Homo sapiens: one gene and its partner. The protein of the gene in region 1 interacts with the protein of each later gene in a biochemical or structural test. Each region holds a gene or a part of one and is shown in the gene's direction. Other genes may lie near its edges. The genes, in order: CPVL and BTK.

What was found.
Region 2: the proteins of CPVL (region 1) and BTK form a complex in vitro, tested with the Homo sapiens proteins (one study listed by BioGRID).

Annotation. Positions count from the first base shown.
Region 1 is NC_000007.14:29,058,108-29,067,498, reverse strand, and holds part of CPVL (probable serine carboxypeptidase CPVL isoform b precursor), read left to right. Parts: intron 1-1,377; coding exon 1,378-1,476; intron 1,477-3,264; coding exon 3,265-3,438; intron 3,439-9,391. UniProt on the Homo sapiens protein: May be involved in the digestion of phagocytosed particles in the lysosome, participation in an inflammatory protease cascade, and trimming of peptides for antigen presentation.
Region 2 is NC_000023.11:101,348,523-101,355,815, reverse strand, and holds the end of BTK (tyrosine-protein kinase BTK), read left to right. Parts: intron 1-1,121; coding exon 1,122-1,186; intron 1,187-1,827; coding exon 1,828-1,946; intron 1,947-2,464; coding exon 2,465-2,622; intron 2,623-5,859; coding exon 5,860-5,931; 3' UTR 5,932-6,366; downstream 6,367-7,293. Other genes in the region: TIMM8A (mitochondrial import inner membrane translocase subunit Tim8 A), read left to right, coding at 7,152-7,283. UniProt on the Homo sapiens protein: Non-receptor tyrosine kinase indispensable for B lymphocyte development, differentiation and signaling. Binding of antigen to the B-cell antigen receptor (BCR) triggers signaling that ultimately leads to B-cell activation.

The DNA of each region.
Region 1 (9,391 bases):
CATAGGTGGAGTAGGTGTCTTCCTTGCTCATCATGTGACTTTCAGATCATGTTCCCTGCCTCCTCCTAAAGCATTGAGCTTTGACTCTCCTGTCCTCAGACAGGGCCTCTGACCACTTCCAACTGTGTCTGCCTACCAACCCCTGGTTACTCCCTCTCATTTGAATAGCTGAGCTCCTTCCTCCCTGTCACTCTCTGCAGCATTATTCTTGTCATAATTCCTGGTAACTGCAGGATCCACATTGACGATCCTTTTGGGACCTGGTCCTTGGTGCCTCAGCCTCCTCTTTTTCAATGATCTTGTTCTCCTCCTCATCTTAGCTGCTGATTCTCATACCCTAAAATGCTGGCAGCTGATCCACAATCACACATTCAAACATCTTTCTCCAACTACCACCTCCTGTCCGAATCTCTTCTGCTAATGTACTGATCTTACAGCCCTGCAACCTCACTACCTTTCAATCCATTGATCCTCCTGCCTCTCCACTATCTCTAACCCCCTCAAGTCTCCATTTCTCTAATTACCTGTCTTCAACCCAGGGTCAGTCATTCCATACATTTCCAAGCCCAAAGCTCTTTTGCATTTCTTCCAACTCCTTTGGCTGAACCACAGCCCTGGCTCAATCTGCCTCTCTGTCAGGCTGTGCTTGTCTCCACACAGCTGACAATGGCTGGAGGAAAGCATGCAACCATGCTGACTGCTCTCCCGCTCAGCTGGTGACTGGGTTTTTTAATGTCAGCCCAAAGATAACTTCCACCAGCTCCAGGAACCTGCATCTGCACCATATCCTGCGTCTTCTCTCCATGTCATCTGGTGAGCAGTTCATGATCCATGTTAAGGCACCCTTCCCACAAGGCTTACTCCCATAGGCAAGGCCTTTGAGCTTACTGTGTCCTCTGCCTGGAACCTTCCTTCCCCTAGATGTCTGCATGGCTCTATTCCTCTCATCCAATATGTCTTTACTCAAATGCCACCTTCTAAGTGAGGTCCTCTGTGACCTCCTCTCTACATTGTCCCATACACACATGCACACACATGACACTTCCTACTCCTCTTTAGTTTTCTCCTTGTCATTCCCTAACATACTCAAGAGTTTATCACTGTCTACCATATGATATAATTTACTTAGAAATGCTTGTTGTCCCCCACCAGAATAAAAGCTCCATGGGGGAGGACCATTGGTCTGTTTTGTTGATGGCCATTTCTCCAGTGCCATGACAGTGTCTAGCACAGAGAATATGCACAATAAGTGGGCGCTGGATGAAACAATAAAGGAATGAAAAAGTTGTTGAATAAATGAAATGACAAATGTCTGTACATTTTTATCCACACTGATGTTTTCTTTCTTTCTTTCTTTCTCCCTCTCTCCCAACCTAGATACTGGATAAACTACTAGATGGCGACTTAACAAGTGATCCTTCTTACTTCCAGAATGTTACAGGATGTAGTAATTACTATAACTTTTTGCGGTGCACGGTAATGACATTTTAAAAACCATAATAATGTTTGCTTAAAACTTTTGGCAAAACCGAACTTCCTTTGATTTGGGAAATATTATAGATGACTTTATACTAGACCAACATGTCCAAACTGTACCGCGTGATGTGGTCTACTAACCCATAGAATCTTTTCCTCATCAGTGTTGTATACGTTATAATCTGACCACTGAGAATGTGTGATATTTCAGATAACTCAAAACAACTTCTGATGAACATGATTTCCCCCAAGTAGAGCTTGTTATAGAGGCACTTTTGTGAAGGACACAGGCTGGGATTGGAGTTCTGGGTCTCAGGTCCCAGAGCTTCAAGTCTGTTTACGAGTCTCTTGAAAATGCCCACATTCTTTGTTCTGTACTTAAGACGCTTGGATAATCAAAACTGCCAAAGCCTTAATGAAAATATTTGCTTTGTCTTACTTTTAAGATGTTTAATGCATTTAGTATGGCCCTCACTTCAAGCCTTCTGGAATATTTCTCAAAGTATTCAAGTAGTTTGTTTCATAAAAGTAGGCCAAAGTTGATATCTTTTGTGTAGAATTAGTCAAACAGAAGGAGCCAAAGTAGGTGTTTGAATTTGTATAATCTTTGTCTAATGCTTATGACAATGCATTCTGTTTTTAAAATTGCCTGATTTATGAACTAGTTTGTAAATAAAGTATAACGTTAGTTTCAGTGGAATTCGCCAATGCTGCAGTTTTGGATTTAGATTCTACTAAGAGAAAAACATGTGGTAGACAAGACAGAAACAAAATTTGTGATGATACCTTTTTTTCTTTACAACAATATATTCACAGTTAGTAAAAATTGTTGATGAAGCACAAAGTTGTCAAACTCAAACTTTAACAGTTTTTTTAATCCTTGTGTAACTGTTTTTTTTTTAAAGCATTTACTCCTTTCTTTCAGTATAATGATTATTACAGAGACTTTATTGCAGTTTTTTTTTTAATAAGCTTCATGGACAACTTTTCTTCTGTCTTGTGTCCTTCATAAAGTATCATCTCTTTTCACATTTGACATATTTTCCCCTTTATTATAGTCAATCCAATTTTGTGTGTGTGTGCGGTTTTTTTTATTTTTTAATTTTATTATTATTATACTTTAAGTTTTAGGGTACATGTGCACAACGTGCAGGTTTGTTACATATGTATACACATGGACACAGGATGGGGAACATCACACACCGGGGACTGTTGTGGGGTGGGGGTAGGGGGGAGGGATAGCATTAGGAGATATACCTGATGCTAAATGACGAGTTAATAAGTGCAGCACACCAACATGGCACATGTATACATGTGTGTGGTTTTAATAAACAGCAGAACACAGAAAAGAAATTCTTAGCTTTAAATCCAGCACACCACCAACCTGGCCCTTGTGATCCATTTGACCTTCTTTCCAAAGAGCCACCAACAAGGAGTGAATTGATTTTGATAATCTCATCTCTTTTGTTTTCTCTCTCTTTGCCTCTAGTGGGGTTGCTAATGGGAGTCACAGATTGCAAAAGATTAGTTTCTGCAAAGGAAAATCCTGTATTTGCAAATTGGGTATTTTAAGAGTATTTTAAGGGTATTTCAGATTTCTAATTAGTAAAAAGATTCCACCTAAATTATCTCAAAACCTCCGAGTTAAAATTTCAAGAATGGCGACAAGTTAATAGTCCCGTCACGTTTCTCCATGTTGTATGTTATGAGAAATTCACAGCTTTTCCCAACATACTGTTCCTGCCACCAATCATGTTCCCTATGTCTTTCCAATGCCCCTTCTGCCAGGAACCTGAGGATCAGCTTTACTATGTGAAATTTTTGTCACTCCCAGAGGTGAGACAAGCCATCCACGTGGGGAATCAGACTTTTAATGATGGAACTATAGTTGAAAAGTACTTGCGAGAAGATACAGTACAGTCAGTTAAGCCATGGTTAACTGAAATCATGAATAATTATAAGGTAAGAGAGCTACTTCAGTTACTATTTTAGGAACTTTCAGATTACCCAGAGCAGAAGTGATTTGTAATTTGAGTCCTGCCTTTTTTTTTTTTTTAACTTTTATGATGTGTCATTAGCATAAATAACAGCCCCTTTCTTTGTTTGATTCCAATTCAAAGTTTTATATTGTTCCTTTTAATTTAACCACTTTTGCCGTTGTGGTGACTTATACCTGTAATCCCAGTGCTTTGGGAGCCTGAGGCGGGTGGATCACCTGAGGTCAAGATTTTGAGACCAGCCTGGCCAACATGGTGAAACCTTCTCTCTACTAAAAAATACAAAAACTAGCTGGACATGGTGGCGGGTGCCTGTAATCCCAGCTACTTGGGAGGTTGAGGCGTGAGAATCACTTGAACCCGGGAGGCAGAGGTTGCAGTGAGCCAAGATCGCAACATTGCACTCCAGCCTGGGCAACAGAGCAAAAACTCTGTCTCAAAAAAATAAAAATAAAATAAAATAATTTAACCACTTTCCCCTGATTATTCCTTAAAATGAAATTCCCTTTGGCACACACCACTTCTCATCCTTTCTTGAGAAAGGAAGAGTTGCAGAGCCAAAAAGATGACTGGCCGTGTGTAAGAGCCAGATTTCTCTTATGTGTTGCTTTGTTACATGAATCCCAATGACGTCAGGGATAAATGAAATCAACTGGTTATTCTGAAAATGCATTTTGCCTAATGGTTGTATTCATTCACTTTACCCAATCACAGTGTTTTGAGTCTCTCCTTAGGGTGTGAGGTTGAAATGATGAATGAGAAAGGGTCCCTGTTTGGAAGTAGGTCAAGTCAAGCCATTGTGCTGTCTGGTTGAAATGCTCTGCCTTTGCTGCCAGTGGAGGTGCCAGTGGAGAGTGAGGTCACAGAAAAGGAGCCCTGGAGGTTCAGGCAAAGAAGACATGGGCCCTGGAACTCCCACTGGGAAGGAGGACACCAAGAGCAAATGACATGGGGAAAGTCAGCCTGTGTATTATTTCTTTCCTGGTACTACGCTCTCAGCTCCTCCTCTGGTCCTCCAGTGCTGTTAGCCTTTGCCCAAGGGATCGTCTCTAGGGCAACTCCGAAGGATGCCTGTACTGATGACTGGGGAGACCACCACTGAGTGATCCACTTCCTCCCTATATCCTGTTTTGAATGAACAAAAAACAGGGCAGTCGGCAGCCCATAGGATTTTTGTATGAATTAGAATAAAGGCATCCTCTCCTCAAGATACTTTATTTCGATCTTTCAGAAATTGTCCTGATATACTGCCTTAGTTAAAACCAGACTCTTTACTGCCATTTGCTGGCATGCTGAATATTCATTTCTACAATGTGTATATTAGGAATGGTGTGTCTTAGGATTGTTCAGTGCACAATCTGCAATACTATCCAGGCAGTCCCTGGCCAATGCACCCTAACTAGACTGTGGTTTAGAATATGCCAGACCTAGGAGGCCCATTTCTGGGTCCTGCTTCTAGTACAGTGTTGGACACGTAACCATTGTTGAAAATAGTTTAAGACCAATTATATGCCAAGTCTACAAACCCATTATAAACCTGCAAAACTTGATGAAATACTTACTTTCTTGGAAAGAAAGAGTCTAACTAGGTCAGGCCAGCATTTCAGCCATCCTTGTGTTTGGTTTTCTTGGGGACATGTAGTGGCCCTTAGTGCTTGCTGCTTCAAGACTTCTCAGAGGACCTCCAGAAGGCACTGCTGTTTGTCCTCTCCTCTGAGCTCTCAGAACGCGTTGTCTTTACCCCCATAGGTGTACATGGCACACTCTAACGTGCAGACTCTCAGTCTGACACCCATACCACCACCAGCCTGGAGCAGATGTCAGGAATGAATGAATGATTAGTGCTGTATCAAAAATATATCTATAAACCTGTCCATAATCCATTAGGTGCTTATTATCCACAAATTTATTAAACCAAAAAGAGGTTAGCGTTCATGTCTTAAAGATGATGTTCTGTAATGTGATGTTAAGGAATGGAACGAGTGAATTTTTTTGAGAGGAGAGCAGATAAGTTTGATATGTGTTATTTGTGCCCTTGGGAGATATATTTTCTCACTGTACACACTTTTTTTTTTTTTTTTTGAGATAGAGTTTTGCTCTTGTTGCCCAGCTGTAGTGCAATGGTGCGACTGGCTCACTGCAACCTCCACCTCCTGGGTTCAAGCAATTCTCCTGCCTCAGCCTCTCAAGTAGCTGGGATTATAGGCATGTGCCACCATGCCCAGCTAATTTTGTATTTTTAATAGAGATGAGTTTTCTCCGTGTTGGTCAGATTGGTCTCAAACTTCTGACCTCAGGTGATCCGCCCACCTCGGCCTCCCAAAGTGCTAGGATTGCAGGCATGAACCACCGCACCTGGCCTCACTGTACAAATTTAACTAGAATATGATTCCTTTCTCAGCCATGTGAGGGTAAGGTGGGACAAACAGCTTACCTGATGACATAAACTCTCCTTATGTTTTGACTGATAAAGGAGAATATATTGATTAGAGGTGATCCTGCATTTTGATATTTAAACTTCTCTGTCCCTCTTGCCCATGTATCCTAAACTTACCACTATGAATTCCAATAAAATCAAAATCCAGTATTTTCTAAACTTTTCTTTTCTTTTTTGAGACAGAGTTTCACTCTGTTGCTCAGGCTGGAATGCAGTGGCACGATCTCGGCTCACTGCAACCTCCACATCCCGGGTTCAAGTGATTCTCCTGCCTCAGCCTCCTGAGTAGCTGAGATTACAGGCACATGCCACCATGCCTGGCTAATTTTTTTTCCGTATTTTTAGTAGAGACAGGGTTTCACCATGTTGCCCAGGCTGATTTCAAACTCCTGACCTCAGGTGATCCACCCGCCTCGGCCTCCCAAAGTGCTGGGATTACAGGTGTGAGCCACCGTGTCTGGCATAAACTTTTCAACTCTGAATCGGTTGCCAGAAAAAGAAAAGAGTTTAGTGGTATAGATAAACCATATTTCCATAAAGAAACAGAACAAAATATGCCACCAAAAAGTGGCTGCTGCTAAAACAGACAGCATGTTCACTCACGCAGCTGGCAAAGCGCTTGGGATAGTGATTATCTTTGGCTTGTCTGTTAATGATGTTGAACCTCAGTGTTCAGAACGGGAATCAGAACAACCTAGGTTGGCTTAAAACGTTAGTACCATTAAAGTCATATTTATGTAAGACTCGGTACTAATTTGTCATAGAAAATAGCATGCCTGTTTCTATTCATAGGAACTAGAGGTCTTTTTCCAGTACTGGGTTCATTTTGGCCAATGTGGAGCATCTCTGATGGTTGAAGGAAGACCTTCCTGGGTTTCTGGAATTACGTTTTCATGTAGTTTCTGTATAAAAATTAGCTTCTCTGTAAACTACGTTAGTTTCTATGTAAGCTACGTGAAAACATAATCCTTTTCTTACAGTGATATACAGGAGATGCATACTCAAAAGTCATTTTCCTTTCAGTAATTTCAGATGTTTGGGTGGTAAATTGAAATATCATATTGGCAGTTTCAAAAATAACTAGAAAGAGAAACAATCTGTTGGGCTATTTGAATTCTTTATGACTGAATGAAGTCAAAACATGATCAGGACTTTTAGGAGTTAGCTGGTTAATAGAGTATGGTGGTTATGAACATGTTCTTAAGTTGCATATCTTGAGTTTGAGCTCTGGTTACACCAGTCACTGGCTATGCTCCTTTGGGAGAGGAAACTTAAACTCTCTGCGCTTTGGCTTCCTTGTCTATAAAACAGGAATAAAAACAGTATTTATGTGTGAGTTTCTGTGAGGTTTAAATGAGATTATATATGTAAACACACTTAGAAGAGTGCCTGATGGTTAGAAGGTGCTTATTTATATATATATAAGCTATTACCAAAAATGTTCAACAAATTTTGTGAAAGTCTTTAAGATCTTGCTACATTCAAAAGTTATACAAGAAACCCTGGAAAACACAAAAATAAAAAAGAATGGACAGGCTTCCAGTTTCCATTCCAGTGTGTAAGAAGCTTAGAAGTCTCCACTCCATTGTAACAACAGTAAAAAGCCAAACAAACTGAAATATAATCAAGAACTCTTTTTAGATTTGTTGAAACTGAGGTCACAGGGCAAATTGCTGCCCTCCAAAATTAGAGAGAGAGATGAATATAGGGAGTCAAAACTTAACAGGAGCAAACCTGTAAGTAGAACCCTCCATGGAAACAAATGGTGAGGAAGGGAAACCTGAACAGTAATTGGTAAATTACTAGAGGCTCCATAGGGACAAGTCTGAGAGTTTAAAACACCATGGGTGGGGAGAGGACTCAGCCAAAGGTCACTTGTAAATGACCTTTATTATGTTGAGGGACTTTTCTTGTATACCCAGACTGTTGAGTGTTTTTATCAAGAAAGGATGTTGGATTTTGTTGAATACTTTTTGTGTCAATTGAGATGATCATGTGGTTTTGTCTTTCAGTCTGTGATGTGTCACTTTGATTAACGTACCTATGTTAAACCAGTCTTGCATGCTAAGGGTAAATCCCACTTGATCATGCTGTAGAATCTTTTTGGTGTATTGTTGAATTTGGATTGCTAATATTTTATCGATAATTTTTGCATGAATGTCAGAGTTACAGCCTTGCAGTTTTCTTTTTTCTTATGATATCTTTGCCTGGCTTAGGAATCAAGATAATACTTGCCAAAAAATCTATGATTAATATGCTAAGGATTTTAATGGAAAAAGTAGACAACCTGCAAGAACAGATGGATATTGAAAATAGAGATATGGAGATTATAAGAATCAAAAGGAACTGTTAGAGATCAAAAACACTGTAACAGAGATAAAGAATGTCTTTGGTGGGCTCACTAGTAGACTGGACACAGCTGAGCTAAGAGTAGCATGAGGATGTAATAAATAAAAGCTTCCAAAACTGAAAAGTAAAGAGAACAAAGACTTAAAAAAATTTTTTTTGAATAGCCTTAACTGTGGGACAACTACAAAAGATGTAACATACACATAAAGGGAATACCAGAACAAGAAGAAAGAGAAGGAAATGGAAGCAATATTTAAAGCAATAATGATTGCAAACTTTCCCAGATTAATGTAAAACATCAAAGCACAGATTCCAGAAGCTCAGAAAACATGGAGTCAGATAAATGCCAAAACAAAATAATCAAGAAAAGGAGGCAAGTCATATGGAAGCTTCAAAAAAATCAAAGATAAAGAAAAAAAGTCTCAAAAGAAGCCAAAGGGGAGAAAAACCTTACCTATAGAGAAGCAAAGGTAAGAATTACATCTAGGTTCTCCTCAGAAATCATGCCAACAAGAAGAGCATGGAGTGAAATATTTAAAGTGTTGAGAGAATAAAACCCACCAACTTAGAATTCTGCACCTTGCAAAAGTATTCCTCAAAAGTGAAAGAGAAATAAAGACTTTCTCAGACAAACAAAAATTGAGGGAATTTGTTGCTAGTAGACCTGCTTTGTAAGAAATGTTAAAGTAAGTTTTCAAAGAGAAGATAAGTGATATAGGTCAGAAACTCACATCTATATAAAGAGAAGAAGAGCATTGGATAATGATTAAATGAAGATGACATAATTATTTATGTAGAAAATCCAGAAGAATCAACAAAAAAGCCTCTTGGAATTAATAAGTGATTAATCATAACAAGGTTGCAGGATATAAGGTTAATATAGAAAAGTTAATCACTTTCCTATGTACTCCCAATAAACAAGTGAAATTTGAAATTAAAACACAGGACTATTTACATTAGCACCCTTCAAAAATGAAATACTTAGATATAAATACAACAAAATATGTATAAGATCTATATTAGGAAAACTGCAAAACTCTGATAAAAGACATCAAGAACAACTAATAGTTGGAGAAATATTTTGTGTACATGGATATGAAGACTCAATATTGTCAAGATGTCAGTTCTTCCC
Region 2 (7,293 bases), on another chromosome or scaffold:
CTACCACCCACAAGAAAATGGTGGGGTCTTTCAGTGGCCATTCTGGATTTGGAACAGAAGGGACTGTGCTTCCCAATGGGACTGCTCCTGGCATGGGGCCATCATTTGGTTCCTTCAGAGTCACATACTGGGGCCTGTGGATGCATTTGGCCCACATGTGTGGGTTTTTTTTATGTTATATAATAATTAGCAAACCCTTAAAAAGAAACATTTCGCTTAAAAAAAAAAAAACCCTGGAATTTCCAGCTTCTCTTGAAAATCTACACCGTCTGGAAATACCAGGTCCACATTCTCACGAACCGCCTCCTTTCCTCTAGGCATGTACTCTCCATTTCCTGCAATCTCGATCCACTTCACTTCACTCTTACTTAACTTGCCTGGCCCCTGTAAGCATCAGAGTTTGCGCCCCTGTTTCTTTCAGTCAGGCCAAGGCTCAAATTGTCCTAGTCTCACTGGCAGAAAAGCAGAAAGCAAAAAAACTTACTTCTCATTCTCCCTTCTTTGTTTTTTGTTTGTTTTGTTTTGTTTTGTTTTGTTTTGAGATGGAGTCTCGCTCTGTTGCCCAGGCTAGAGTGCAATGGCACCATCTCGGCTCACTGCAAACTCCGCCTCCCAGATTCAAGCAATTCTCCTGCCTCAGCCTCCCAAGTAGCTGGGATCACAGGCGCCCAACACCACGCCCAGCTAATTTTTGTATTTTTAGTAGATGGGGTATCGCCATGTTGGCCAGGCTGGTCTTGAACTCTTGACCTCAGGTGATCCACCCACCTCGGCCTCCCAAAGTGTTGGGATTACAGGCGTGAGCCACTGCACCCAGCCTCTCCCTTAATTCTTTCAGCATATCAGTGAGGGAATGGGGTGGTGTGGAATTGCCCATGAGAATGCAATCGTTCTGTATGTCCTCAGTGCTTTACCTAGGACTACACAGCAGGTTGCTTTCCACGTGGTGGAAATGAATCAAAATTTCTTGGTGGCATCAACAGATTCCTATTAGGTGGGAAGGTGTCTGTAGTCGAAGGAGATGAAGCTTCCCTGGCTTCATTCTACTGGTCAGCAGAAGCTTTGTGCCTTTAACCTCTGTGCTGGGGACGGAGTCTCACTGGTCTCTGTTTGCACTACAGGCAGCTCGAAACTGTTTGGTAAACGATCAAGGAGTTGTTAAAGTATCTGATTTCGGCCTGTCCAGGTGAGTGTGGCTTTTTCATCTTTCCCTCCAGAAGTAAAAATAGCACAGTATGAAACATGGGTAGGTGTTACAGTTTTAATCCTCTCCTTTTCTTTTTTTTCTCATTCTAGCGTTTTCTGCCGATCTTTCTATTCTTTTTCTTCCTCTGAGTTATTTAAGCCACCTCTTTCATCCTTTTGTTTTATTGTCATATCCCTTTCCTTCCTTTCTCCCTTTATCTCTACCTCCTCTTTTTTAAATCTATTTCCCCAATACCTTATCTTGATCTATTAATCCTGATGACTTTACTCCATTCCTCCTTCTTTCTTAATCAGTCTAATTCCCAGTGACAACTGCAGATAAAAGGAAGGGAAGGAGAAGAGCAGAGAAAGGAAAGGTGGATAGAGAAGAGGAAGGGAGTACCTACTAGATCTTATTTCACTTCATCCTTCTTGTAACCATATTGTCAATCAGGAAAGCTCAATCAGATACAAAAACAGGAAATTCGTTAAAAGTAACGTTTGTAGAAGATACTAGTTGAGGAGGAGAGACTTTTGAGAAAGCCTGTGTGTGTTTGTGACACTCTTGTGACCGTGCCAAGAAAACGTAAGCAAATATCAAGCCTCCAAATCCTAATGCAACAAGTCCTGAATCCCTTGCAGGTATGTCCTGGATGATGAATACACAAGCTCAGTAGGCTCCAAATTTCCAGTCCGGTGGTCCCCACCGGAAGTCCTGATGTATAGCAAGTTCAGCAGCAAATCTGACATTTGGGCTTTTGGTAAGTGGATAAGATTACACAGATTATACAGCTCAAAGGATAAGAAATGCAATGGGAAAATTCACACTTTGCAACCTCCACAGAGATATTGTTCTTGCTTTCATTCTTCCAATCCTTGGGGAGTGCTTACTGTGTGTCAGCCACCACAGGGGTTTCTGAGGATGAAAACTAAACTGGACATGATCTCTGCCTTTTTAGAACTTAAACCATGTTAAGGAAAACAATTCATTCAGTTTTCAACAGCTTCTGAATACTGATTATGTACCAGGCACTCTGCCAGACCCTATAACTGCAAAGACAAATAAGATGCTGTCTCTCTTCTAGAGGAGTTAATAGTCTAGTACGACCTTGATCTCCATCTAGTGTGGTCAGTACTATAGCAGAAATTTGGGCAAAATATAAAAAGCACAGAGCGGGGAACCAACTGATTCTAATCTTTGAGGTTGATCTAGGAAGACTAGGACCCCTGCTATCCAAAAAGACTGCAAACCAATTTAATAATTTTTTTCACCTTCTAGGGGTTTTGATGTGGGAAATTTACTCCCTGGGGAAGATGCCATATGAGAGATTTACTAACAGTGAGACTGCTGAACACATTGCCCAAGGCCTACGTCTCTACAGGCCTCATCTGGCTTCAGAGAAGGTATATACCATCATGTACAGTTGCTGGCATGAGGTAAGTGCTTTATTAGGATCTCTTAAATTATTTCCTTGAATCTACTTGCCCATTTAGCTGGCCATTCAGCCACCAAAGACTGATAGCTGCACACATTCTTTTTTTTCCTTTTTTTTTTTTTTTAATTTGAGACAAGGTCTCGCTCTTTCACCCAGGTTGGAGTACAGTGGCGCGATCTTGGCTTACTGCAACCTTCGCCTCCCAGATTCAAGCGATTCTCATGTCTCAGCCTCCCAAGTAGCTGGGATTATAGGCGTGCACCACCACACCAAGCTAATTTTTTTTTTTTTTTTTGGTGACACAGTCTTGCTCTGTCACCCAGGCTGGAGTGCAGTGGCACGATTTTGGCTCACTGCAACCTCTGCCTCCTGGGTTCAAGTGATTCTCCTGCCTTAGCCTCCCGAGTAGCTGGGACTACAGGCACATGCCACCGTGCCCAGCTAATTTTTGCATTTTTAGTAGAGACAGCATTTCACCATGTTGGCCAGGCAGGTCTTGAACTCCTGACCTCAGGTGATCCACCCACCTCGGCCTCCCAAAGTGCTGGGATTACAGGCGTGAGCCACTGAGCCTGGCCAATTTTGTATTTTTAGTAGAGATGGCATTTCGCCATGTTGACCAGGCTGATCTCGAACTCCTGGCCTCAAGTGATCCGCCCACCTCGGCCTCCCAAAGTGCTGGGATTAGAGGCATCAACCACCACGCCAGGCCTTGCACACATTCTCTGACCTTGGCCTGCAACTTGATCATCTGATGGCCAGAGGCTTTCCCAGGCCCACTCCGATTCTCACTAGAGTGTCATTAGTACACTCCAATGCCAGCTCAGCTTTAGGGAGTGAGGTGTTGTGGGGCCATGTCATCTAGCATAAGCAGGCAGCCAGAGGCATTCAGACAAGTGAATGGGCATTACAAAAGAAAAGTCATGAAAGTTTGTTCATTCCTTTGTGTGTCATTGGCCCTTTCTTCTACTTTATTAGCTGCCAACCGTTTCTGGCTGAGGTCCTAAATGAGATTTTTTTTTTTTTTTTTTTGAGACCGAGTCTTTCTCTGTCGCCCAGGCTGGAGTGCAGTGGCGTGATCTCGGCTCACCGCAAGCCCCGCCTCCTGGGTTCACAGCATTCTCCTGCCTCAGCCTCTCGAGTAGCTGGGACTACAGGGGCCCGCCACCACGCCCGGCTAATTTTTTGTATTTTTAGTAGAGACAGGGTTTCACCGTGTTAGCCAAGATGGTCTCGATCTCCTGACCTTGTGATCCACCCGCCTCTGCCTCCCAAAGTGCTGGGATTACAGGCATGAGCCACAGCGCCCGGCTAAATGAGATTTTTTTTAAAACCTACTGCTTGAAAGGGAACTAAAACAGGTAGTGGGTTTTTTGTTTGCTTTGTTTTGTTTTGCTTTTTAATATGGTGCATCGTGGGGTATGTGGGTAGGTGTGGTATTTTGGAAATAAGGAAATCTGTCCTACTACTATTAAACTGCTTTGCTCCTCTTACCTCGAGTTCTTCCCAAGATGCCTTCTCTACTTTTCAGTAGATCCTTGGCAACCTAAATTTCTAGTAGGAAATAAATGCTCAACTCTTCAGAGTGTCCAACAAGTGCATATGTGAATCTGGAGCCTTCTTGGTGAGGTGAAAAGTGGGTATCTGGATCCGAGCATGGCTGGTTTCCCTCGAACAAATGACAGATCACAGAGAAAGTGCAGAAAGGGAGGACTCCTTCTTTCTTCTGTGTGATGCAGGATTAAGGGTGATTGGCTATGCTCCCTCCCAATCAGGACCTTCTTACTCTGCTAATTAAAAATGATTTCAGACAGGTACTTTATCCACAGCCTGTTTAAAGGAGTGGTCAAAATTGGATGCATATCAGAAACCCTAAGGAGCTCTTAAAAATGCAGATTACTGGCTGGGCATGGTGGCTCATGCCTGTAATCCCAGCAGTTTGGGAGGCCAAGGCAAGCGGATCACGTGGTCAGGAGATCTAGACCATTCTGGCCAACATGGTGAAACCCTGTCTCTACTAAAAATACAAAAATTAACCAGGCGTGGTGATGTGTGCCTGTAATCTCAGCTACTCAGGAGGCTGAGGCAGGAGAATGACTTGAACCCAGGAGGTGGAGGTTGCAGTGAGCCGAGATCCTGCCACTGCACTCTGGCCTGAGTGACAGAGCGAGACTGTGTCACAAAAAAAAATTCAGGTAACTGGGACTTTTCTCCAGAAATTCTGATTAGCTATGCCTGAAGTGGAACCCAGAAATCTCTTTTTAAACTTCCCAGGAAATTCTGATACTCAGCTAAGTTTAAGAATCACTGAGTCAAGGAATCAAGAAATTGATGACCATTGGTTCTAACAGATTGAGAGCATTCTGGCATGAATGTTCCCTGAACCACTAAATACCAAATACCTCGGGGGCTTATGGGCCATGGCCATCAAAAAGAACCTTAGTCGTAGGCCGGGCGCGGTGGCTCACGCCTGTAATCCCAGCACTTTGGGAGGCTGAGGCGGGGGAATTACCTTAGGTCAGGAATTCGAGACTAGTCTGACCAACATGGTGAAACCCGGTCTATACTAAAAATACGAAAATTAGCTGGGCGTGATGGCGTGCACCTGTAATCCCAGCTACCTGGGAGGCTGAGGCAGGAAAATCGCTTGAACCTGGGAGGTGGCAGTGAGCTGAGCTCACACCACTGCACTCCAGCCTGGACAACAGGGTGAGACTCTGTCTCAAAAAGAAAAAAAAAAAAAAACCTTAGTCTTTTTGTTACCAGTGGTAAAAAAAAAAAAAAAAAAAAAAAGGTCCCAGGTACTCAGAATCCCTGCTCAGTAATACAGCCTGTGGTTTTGAAATATTAATCACTAAAAATTATCACATGGGATTTCTGTTCTGCCAACCACTTGAACTTGTTTGGTAGCCATTTTTCACTTGAGGATCCAAAATAAGAATGTGTTGTATACAGTTACATAATGAACTTGCCCTCAATTTTGATCAGTGTGATTGTCAGTTTAATTTGCAAATTGTTCTTATCACACTAATAACCTGAGTTACTAAAGATGAAAAGTGCACAAAGACTTTATGGAGAGCTGCTATTTCTTTTTTTTTTTTTTTTCCTTTTGTAATCGACAGGGCATGCTACTGGGCATAGAGCATATATTTAATAAACATTTGCTGCTTACTCATTGCATTTCCCTTGAATTCTGGATTCTAGCCACTCTAACACTTTACTTTTTCTTTGGTTTTAGAAAGCAGATGAGCGTCCCACTTTCAAAATTCTTCTGAGCAATATTCTAGATGTCATGGATGAAGAATCCTGAGCTCGCCAATAAGCTTCTTGGTTCTACTTCTCTTCTCCACAAGCCCCAATTTCACTTTCTCAGAGGAAATCCCAAGCTTAGGAGCCCTGGAGCCTTTGTGCTCCCACTCAATACAAAAAGGCCCCTCTCTACATCTGGGAATGCACCTCTTCTTTGATTCCCTGGGATAGTGGCTTCTGAGCAAAGGCCAAGAAATTATTGTGCCTGAAATTTCCCGAGAGAATTAAGACAGACTGAATTTGCGATGAAAATATTTTTTAGGAGGGAGGATGTAAATAGCCGCACAAAGGGGTCCAACAGCTCTTTGAGTAGGCATTTGGTAGAGCTTGGGGGTGTGTGTGTGGGGGTGGACCGAATTTGGCAAGAATGAAATGGTGTCATAAAGATGGGAGGGGAGGGTGTTTTGATAAAATAAAATTACTAGAAAGCTTGAAAGTCTTTGGTATCTCTATTAATCATGCAGCCTCCCTGAAGCGCCCTATCTCAGTATTCCAGAAAGCTGCTGTGTAGCATTAGTTTGGCATATTCCTACACTGAGAACTCGACAGGATCCTCCAGGTTTAAGCCCTCTTGTTAACTCCTGCCTCTGAATCAAAGATGCATTAAGCAAAAACAGTGCCTGTCACAGCACGCATGCAATGTTATTTGAATGAATCTGAAAGTTGGGCACAAACTGCCATAGCCTCATTTCCCTACGTCGGGAGAGGAAAACTCCATCAAAAAACGAAAGCCAGGGGCCCAGGATAGCCAACTAATCGACCCAGTCAACTAACTGACCCAGTGCACAACTCTGGTAGCTCAGAAAACGCGGGCTAATTTGGAAGTGGACAGGGGCGGAGCTGTGGGGCCAGCACGGAATGGATCACGTGGTCTGAAGTAACTTCCTTTTCTCCTTTCTTTTCTTTTTGGAGTAACATCTCAACGGCACCTCGGCTCTGGGCTGTAAGCCCTGCGATCTCAAGGCGCAAGGCTGGGCGCAACGGCAGGGTTGCGGGGTTACGGGATTGCGGGGTCCGGGGAGTGGAACCCGCCGACTCCGGGAACGAAGCACCGGCGCCAAGGTGTGGGAGGCGGCGGGGTGGAGTTGGACGCCTGCCTCGCGCCGACGCAGTGCACTCACGGGGGCGGTCCCAGAGGCAGCTAGCTGTGGTTCCGGTTCCGTCGCGGAGACACGTGAAGGTCGGTGCGGAGTTCGTCTCTGCAAGCTTGGTCGCCCTGGGATGGATTCCTCCTCCTCTTCCTCCGCGGCGGGTTTGGGTGCAGTGGACCCGCAGTTGCAGCATTTCATCGAGGTAGAGACTCAAAAGCAGCGCTTCCAGCAGCTGGTGCACCAGATGACTGAACTTTGTTGGGTGAGGAGCC